Linked DNA regions of Homo sapiens. The protein of the gene in region 1 purifies or fractionates together with the protein of each later gene. This does not show direct contact. Each region holds a gene or a part of one and is shown on either strand. Other genes may lie near its edges.

Region 1 (3,500 bases):
CTAAAAACAACATGAGGGTTGCAGGGCACCTTGAAATCAGTGTAGTAGATGACCCAAGCAGTGTGTTTCCAGAGAGAACAAAAGAAATGTAAATAGATCTTTGTGTTTACTGAACAAAGGAGCCTTGCCACAAACAGGGAATTTGGTTTTAACTTTTCACTGACGAAGAAGAAGTTTCAAATTTGTTGGCCATCTGTAGCTGCTTACTTAGTAAGCAGAACGAGAACACCTGGGCATCCCAGCAAAGGTGTCCAGTCCAGAGGGAATTCACACTAGACTCAAGTAGCAGTTCTGCCACTCTCTAGCGATGTGTGTCAGACCATCACTTCACCTCCCTGGGCTTTGGATTCATAATCTGGGCCTTTGGGGTTGGGTCTGCTTCTTCTGAGACAGTTTGTGTTTCTATATGGGCAGCTGCAGAACAACTGGATGACAGGCAGCAGGTGTCCAGTGAGCTTGAATGCCAGACAAAGCAATCTGGCTTTTATGTGTAAACCTGGCTGTTTGTACCTTTTTCAATGGTTTGATTCAGTAGCTCTGATGATATGTGCTTGAGCTATGGAAGATTTCTCATCTTTTTTTCCCTTCTTCCCTAGACTGCAAATGTCAAGATGGCAGATGGTAAGTGGGAGGTAGGGTATAGTCTGGCTTAAGGGAAAAGTTCCAGTCCCACTGAATCCACCTCTAGCTCTGTGTCCCTGAACAAATGATGCCTTCCAGTGCTAATACTAGTAATAATGATGATGATGACACTGACAACAATAATGATTTCATAATGATGGTGGTAATACCTAACACCTAAATGGTATTTATCATCATGACAGTTATTGTTATGAACATTTTACACATGGAAAACAGAGAGGGTAAGGCACAGAGAGGGTAAGAAAGTTGTCCAAGATCACACAGACAGTAAGTAGAAGTGAGATTTTAAACAAATTATTTTGGCTCCAGAGTCCATGCTGTAGGATAGAAGTTCTCAAATTCTTTGGTCTCAGGACTCCTAGATAATCCTTAAAATATTGATGCCACTGAGGGGAGAAAGTTTTAAAATATTTGTTTATTAACCTATTTAAAAATAAAAACAATCCCATTGCTTAACATAAATATTTTAATAAAATATTTAGTAAAATAATATTTTCCACACGCGTATACCAAAAATAGTGAGAAAAGTGGCATTTTTTTTTTATTATTGAATATCTATTATTGTCTTAAAACCAGACAGCTGAAGCCTCCTGTTTCAGCATTCAATCTGTTGAGGTATGTTGTTTTAGTTGAAGAAAATCTGGCTTCGCACAGTTGGAAAAGGGAAGGGTTTTTAATAGTCTTTCAGATAATTTAGGATATTCTTCTTTGATACTACACCAAAATTCGATAGGTGGTAGTTTCTTAAACGTTGGTTGCAATGTGAAATCTGAAATCATATCAATAAACTTTTCATAATCTATTAAATTATAATGGATTGATTTATCTTGTACTTTGAATGGTTATTCTACCTACATACGATTTTGTAACATCATGCATTGCCTGTTTAGAGAACACTGGTTTACTGAGTTACGTTCGTTTTCAAAATGTGGACACCCTTACTTATCTAATATAGAAAATTCAAATGCATTAATATCACCACCAGTGCCATCAGTTATGATTGGGAAGAAGTTGTCAAGCTCGTGATGGTGGCTAAAAGTTTCGCAAAATTCTAACTTTTTCTGGAAAGTTCAAATTTTATTATTGGCAATTAATACTACTGTTTCCTTCAAGCGGCAGGTTCATTTTCCTCATTTTAAAGAATATTCAAGAATAACTAACCATAATTTTTCTGTCGGTCATTCTTTAAAGTAAAAGTGGCTAGTTCAGCTCAGAACTCAAATGCTTTTCTTTGAGACAGTCATAGTACTTGGCAGGAGTACTTTACGTATACTGCCCATCTGCCATATGAAATATTAAAAATCTATGTATTCAAGGGTCAAGATTTAATACAATTAATAATTTTTACTGCTCCATGGAAGATATTCTTAAGTGCAATTGGCTTTTTTTTTCTTTTCAACTACAAGTATATGGCAGTGGAATGTACAGTGACCACTAGTTTGGTACCGTTGGTGCCATTGTCTGAATTTGTTTGAGCAGTTTCACCCACCATTGCTTTTGCACAATTAGGATGGGTAAACCGCAGTTCAGAGGACTTAACAGCCTATCCCAGAGTTCACAGCTAATAAAAGGCAAAGCCAGGATTTGGACACCAAGCCCAGCGCTGTTTCCATCACACTCCATAGCTGCCCTTTCCCAGCCCTCAGGGTCCTAGACTGGTGTAAGGCTTTCAGAACAAAATGGGTTAGCTCAGGCCCTGAACGGTATGAGTCAGAGAGCAGAGTGGCTTGGATGGCATGTTTTCTATTTCCGAACAAGCAGTTTGGGGCTTTGGGGCAATCCCAAGCGATTGTGTCAGATCTGGGCAAAAGTTTAGGACTCTGAATTAAAAAGGATTTGTTACCTTTACAATGTAGGAAAATGAAATGCCAGTATCCTTTTAGTGCCACCATCTTCTCCCATTAACAATGGAAAGTGATGATCATAGCTAACATTTTTCTGAGCATTTACAAAATGCCAGGCACTATTCTGAGCATCTTACACACTTTAATTTAAACTTGACAACAATCCTATGAGGTAGACTCTAAAACTGACCACATTTTAGAGATAAGGAAACTGAGACACAGAGAAGTTAAGGAATTTCCCAAAGTCACACAGCCAGAAAGCGGCAGAGCCAGGACCCAAACCCACGCCTTTGAACAGCAGAGACCATATTATGTTCTGATGCAATCAGATTCCCAATCAATCCAACCTGTAGTCTTTCATTGTCCTTTGCACCACTCATAACCTGAACTAAAAAATATTCTTGCCTTTTTATGAGTCCATCAAGCATGTGACAATACCCACTGGTACTGAAAACAACTAAATCACCACTAGTTGCTTATGACGTAACTGGAAGTCATCATTGAGAATGAGCTTTTTAAATACAGTGCAGGCATGGTCTGTACTGAGGCTTAATGAACCAGAAAAAGCAAACTGCAAGAAAAAAGTTATTTTATGACCTCTCTGGGAATTGAGACTCTATTTCCTCCTTTTTACATTTTTTGTATTCCCCTCAGCACTTCATGTGTTATTGTGAACTTCATAGGCATTTAATAAACGCTGGTTGATGAAGTAAATGGAAGGCTCAAGTGAATTTTAGGCAAATTAGCTTTGGAGACACCCCATTTATTATTTACCCACTTGACAAGATGTCACATCCACAAATCCACAAATCCTTCCCAACATTTATTACTTAATTTTCAAAGTGCCCCCATCTCTCCTCAGGGAGGAAGGTGGGGCCAAGTGTTATATTCCCATTTTGACAGGTGAGAGAAACTGAGATATAAAGAGTTGAGCAGTCCATTGCCATGGCAACCCAGCCAGTCAGCCGAGGAGCCAGTCACAATTAGGTTTAGGGCCTGGGTCTTGGTATCAAA
Region 2 (3,500 bases), on another chromosome or scaffold:
GGTGGACAGTATGACGTGCACACTGTCACGGCACAGGGTCTGAATGGGGTAATAGGCATTTGTTTGGTTGAATTAAATGGTGCAATGCCAGGCCTAGAGACACCCTGACTGACATGGTGGGCTGCAGCAGCAGGGCCATCCCAGTGTCAGCTGAACCTTGAGGGTTTGCCTGGAAAGTGGGTTTTTGCTGCTGGCTTCCCTGGCGGTGGCAGTCAGGGAAGGACCCTTCTAAGTAGAACGAATAGCCAATATAAAGAGGAGGAAGCCTCTCTGATGTGTGGGAGGCCAGTGTGGCTGCAGTAGAGTAAGCAAGATGCAAAGCAGTAAGGAATGGATTCTCTGAGAGAGGTCATAGGGAGCAGTGCCTCGTAGGTATTGTGAGGTCCTTGGCTTTTACTCTGAATGGGGGAGGGGGACATTGCAGGATTTGGAGTAGAATTGTAGGACGACCTGTCTTAAGTTTTAAGAGGATTGAACATAGCAGTTTTATGGTGCATTAATCAGGGGGAATTAAATGTGGAAGGAGAGGGACCAGTTAGGCAGCAACAGTGATAACTCAGGCCAAGAGATGGCGGTGGCTTGCAGCAGGAGGGAGCAGTGGAGACAGTGAGATATGCTTAGATTCGGGATGTATGTGTTGTAGGTCAAGCAAATGGGGTTTTCCTCTTGGAATGGATGTGGGTATGAGAAGGAGAGAGGAGCCAGTGGTGACTCCGAGGTTTCTGGTCTGAATAGCTAGAAGAATGAGGGCTGCATCGAGGCCTTCCCTAGTGAAAACCTTGATCTAAGTAGTCATCGACATTGGCATAAATCATGCCATTGCCTTACCTTTTGTACCACGGTACTTTTTTTTTTTTTTTTAATTTTACTGACAGTTCTGGGATACAAGTGCAGAACATGCAGGTTTGTTACGTAGGTATACATGTGCCATGGTGGTTTGCTGCACCTATCTTCCCGTCATCTAGGTTTTAAGCCCCATATGCATTAGCTATTTGTCCTAATGCTCTCCCTTCCTTGCAACTCCCCCACCCCCTGACAGGCCCCAGTGTGTGATGTTTCTCTCCCCGTGGCCATATGTTCTCATTGTTCAACTCCCACTTATGAGTGAGAACAGGCAGTGTTTGGTTTTCTGTTCCTGTGTTAGTTTGCTGAGAATGATGGCTTCCAGCTTTATCCCTGTCCCTGCAAAGGACATGATCTCATTTCTTTTTATGGCTGCATAGTATTCCATGGTATATATGTTGACATTTTCTTTATCCAATCTATCATTGATGGGCATTTGGGTTGGTTCCAAGTGTTTGTTGTTGTAAATAGTGCTGCGATAAACATACGTGTGCATATGTCTTTATAGTAGAATGATTTCTATTCCTTTGGGTATATACCTAGTAATGGGATTGCTGGGCCAAATGGTATTTCTCGTTCTAGATCCTTGAGGAATTGTTTTCCACAATAGTTGAACTAATTTACATTCCCACCAACAGTGTAAAAGTATTCTTATTTCTCCACAGCCTCACCAGCATCTATAGTTTCTTGACTTTTTAGTAATCGCCATTCTGACTGGCATGAGATGGTATCTCATTGTGCATTTCTCAGATGATCAGTGGTGTTGAGCGTTTTTTCATGTTTGTTGGCCACATAAATGTCTTCTTTCTAGAAGTGTCTGTTTATATCCTTTGTCCACATTTTGATGGGGTTGTTTGTTTCTTGTAAATTTGTTTAAGTTTCTTATAGATTCTGGATATTAGCCCTTTGTCAGATGAGTAGATTGCAAAAATTTTCTCCCATTCTGTAGGTTGCCTGTTCACTTTGATGATAGTTTCTTTTGCTGTGCAGAAACTCTTCAGTTTAATTAGATCCCATTTGTTAATTTTGGTTTTTGCTGCAATTGCTTTTGGTGTTTTTGTCATGAAGTCTTTGCCCATGCATATGTCCTGATTGGTATTGCCTAGGTTTTCTTCTAGGGTTTTAAATTTTTATTTATTTATTTTTTTGAGACAGAGTCTCACTCTGTCTCCCTGGCTGGAGTGCAGCGGAGCAATCTCGGCTCACTGCAAGCTCCACCTCCTGGGTTCACGCCATTCTCCTGCCTCAGCCTCCCGAGTAGCTGGGACTACACAGGAGCCCACCACCACGCCCGGCTAATTTTTTGTATTTTTAGTAGAGACGGGGTTTCACCGTGTTAGCCAGGAAGGTCTCGATCTCCTGACCTCATGATCCGCCCATCTCAGCCTCCCAAAGTGCTGGGATTACAGGCATGAGCCACCACGCCCAGCCTCTTCTAGGGTTTTTATGGTTTGGGATTTTACATTTAAGTTTGTAATCCATCTTGAGTTAATTTTCGTGTAAGATATAAGGAAGGGGTCCAGTTTCAGTTTTCCACATATGGCTGGCCAGTTTTCCCAGCACCATTTATTAAATAGGAGATCCTTATTCCATTGCTTCTTTTTGTCAGGTTTGTCGAAGATCAGGTGGTTGTAGATGCGTGGTGTTATTTCTGAGGTCTCTGTTCTGTTCCATTGGTCTATATATCTGTTTGAGTACCAGTCCCATAGCATGGTACATTTACAAAGCCCTTGTGTCATCATGTTTAGCCCTCACAGACACCCTAAGAAAAATAACTTCTGTCTTCATTTTGCAGGTGAGGAAACTGAGGCATAGATCTTTGAGGTCTCTCTGAAAATTCCCTCTATTTTATGGAAGTTGCCCCTTTTCACCTTGTCTTTTAGTTAGGTAACTGCATGTCATCTTCCCCACTAGCTGGTACATTGTTGGAGGGCAGAGCTGTATGGAGGGTTAACTTTGAGTCCATTCAGCATCACTGCAATAGCAGGAACGTGGTAGGTCAGAGAAACTAATCATTATTGTAGCATAGGTCCCATTGAGAATCCTGTGACCGCTAGAAACACACTTCTTCCCATTAAAATATGCACATGTGCAGTTCTGCATTGTAATGTCGCCAAAACTCATTCATGGAAGCCAGTTAAGGTCCCTGGCAAAATGTGCTTATTTTACTCTGTAACTATTTAGTAAACAAATACAATAGGTATAGCCAAAGCATTCTGCCTAAGGTTTGAATTCTTGAAGCCAGGAGCTTGTCAAGAGTCGGAAAACAATTCTTACAGTCTGTTCAGATCAATTAAGTTCAGTAAGCCTGTCCTGAGTGATGGTCCTTAGCTGGGTGTTTGGGCCCAGAGATGAATAAAACAGTTCGGGAAGCTTACAGTCCAGTCATAACCTCTCTTTCTGTATGAGGCAGCAGAGAGCACCATTATTAGTACTAATGTCCCCATTGGACAGGTTGGGGGCAGTGCCCCCTTTGCTTCATGTTACTAGAGCTGCCATCATCCCCTTCATACTTCCTTGCAGCCTCATGTTGAATGATCTGGGCACCTCTGTAGAATGCAAGCTCTATGATGGCAGGGCCATGTCTGTTGTTCTTCTTCAGCACAGAGCAGGTGCTCAGCGGCTGCTGATTGGATGGATGAAGAGGTGGATTCATA

Evidence for each region. Proteins that work in one complex are often made in the same cells at the same time.
Region 2: the proteins of ROR1 (region 1) and DOCK2 purify together in Homo sapiens (affinity purification with western blotting; one study listed by BioGRID). This does not show direct contact.

What each region holds. Positions count from the first base shown.
Region 1 is NC_000001.11:64,043,017-64,046,516, reverse strand, and holds part of ROR1 (inactive tyrosine-protein kinase transmembrane receptor ROR1 isoform 1 precursor), read right to left. Parts: intron 1-3,500. UniProt on the Homo sapiens protein: Has very low kinase activity in vitro and is unlikely to function as a tyrosine kinase in vivo. Receptor for ligand WNT5A which activate downstream NFkB signaling pathway and may result in the inhibition of WNT3A-mediated signaling.
Region 2 is NC_000005.10:169,643,775-169,647,274, forward strand, and holds part of DOCK2 (dedicator of cytokinesis protein 2), read left to right. Parts: intron 1-3,500. UniProt on the Homo sapiens protein: Involved in cytoskeletal rearrangements required for lymphocyte migration in response of chemokines. Activates RAC1 and RAC2, but not CDC42, by functioning as a guanine nucleotide exchange factor (GEF), which exchanges bound GDP for free GTP.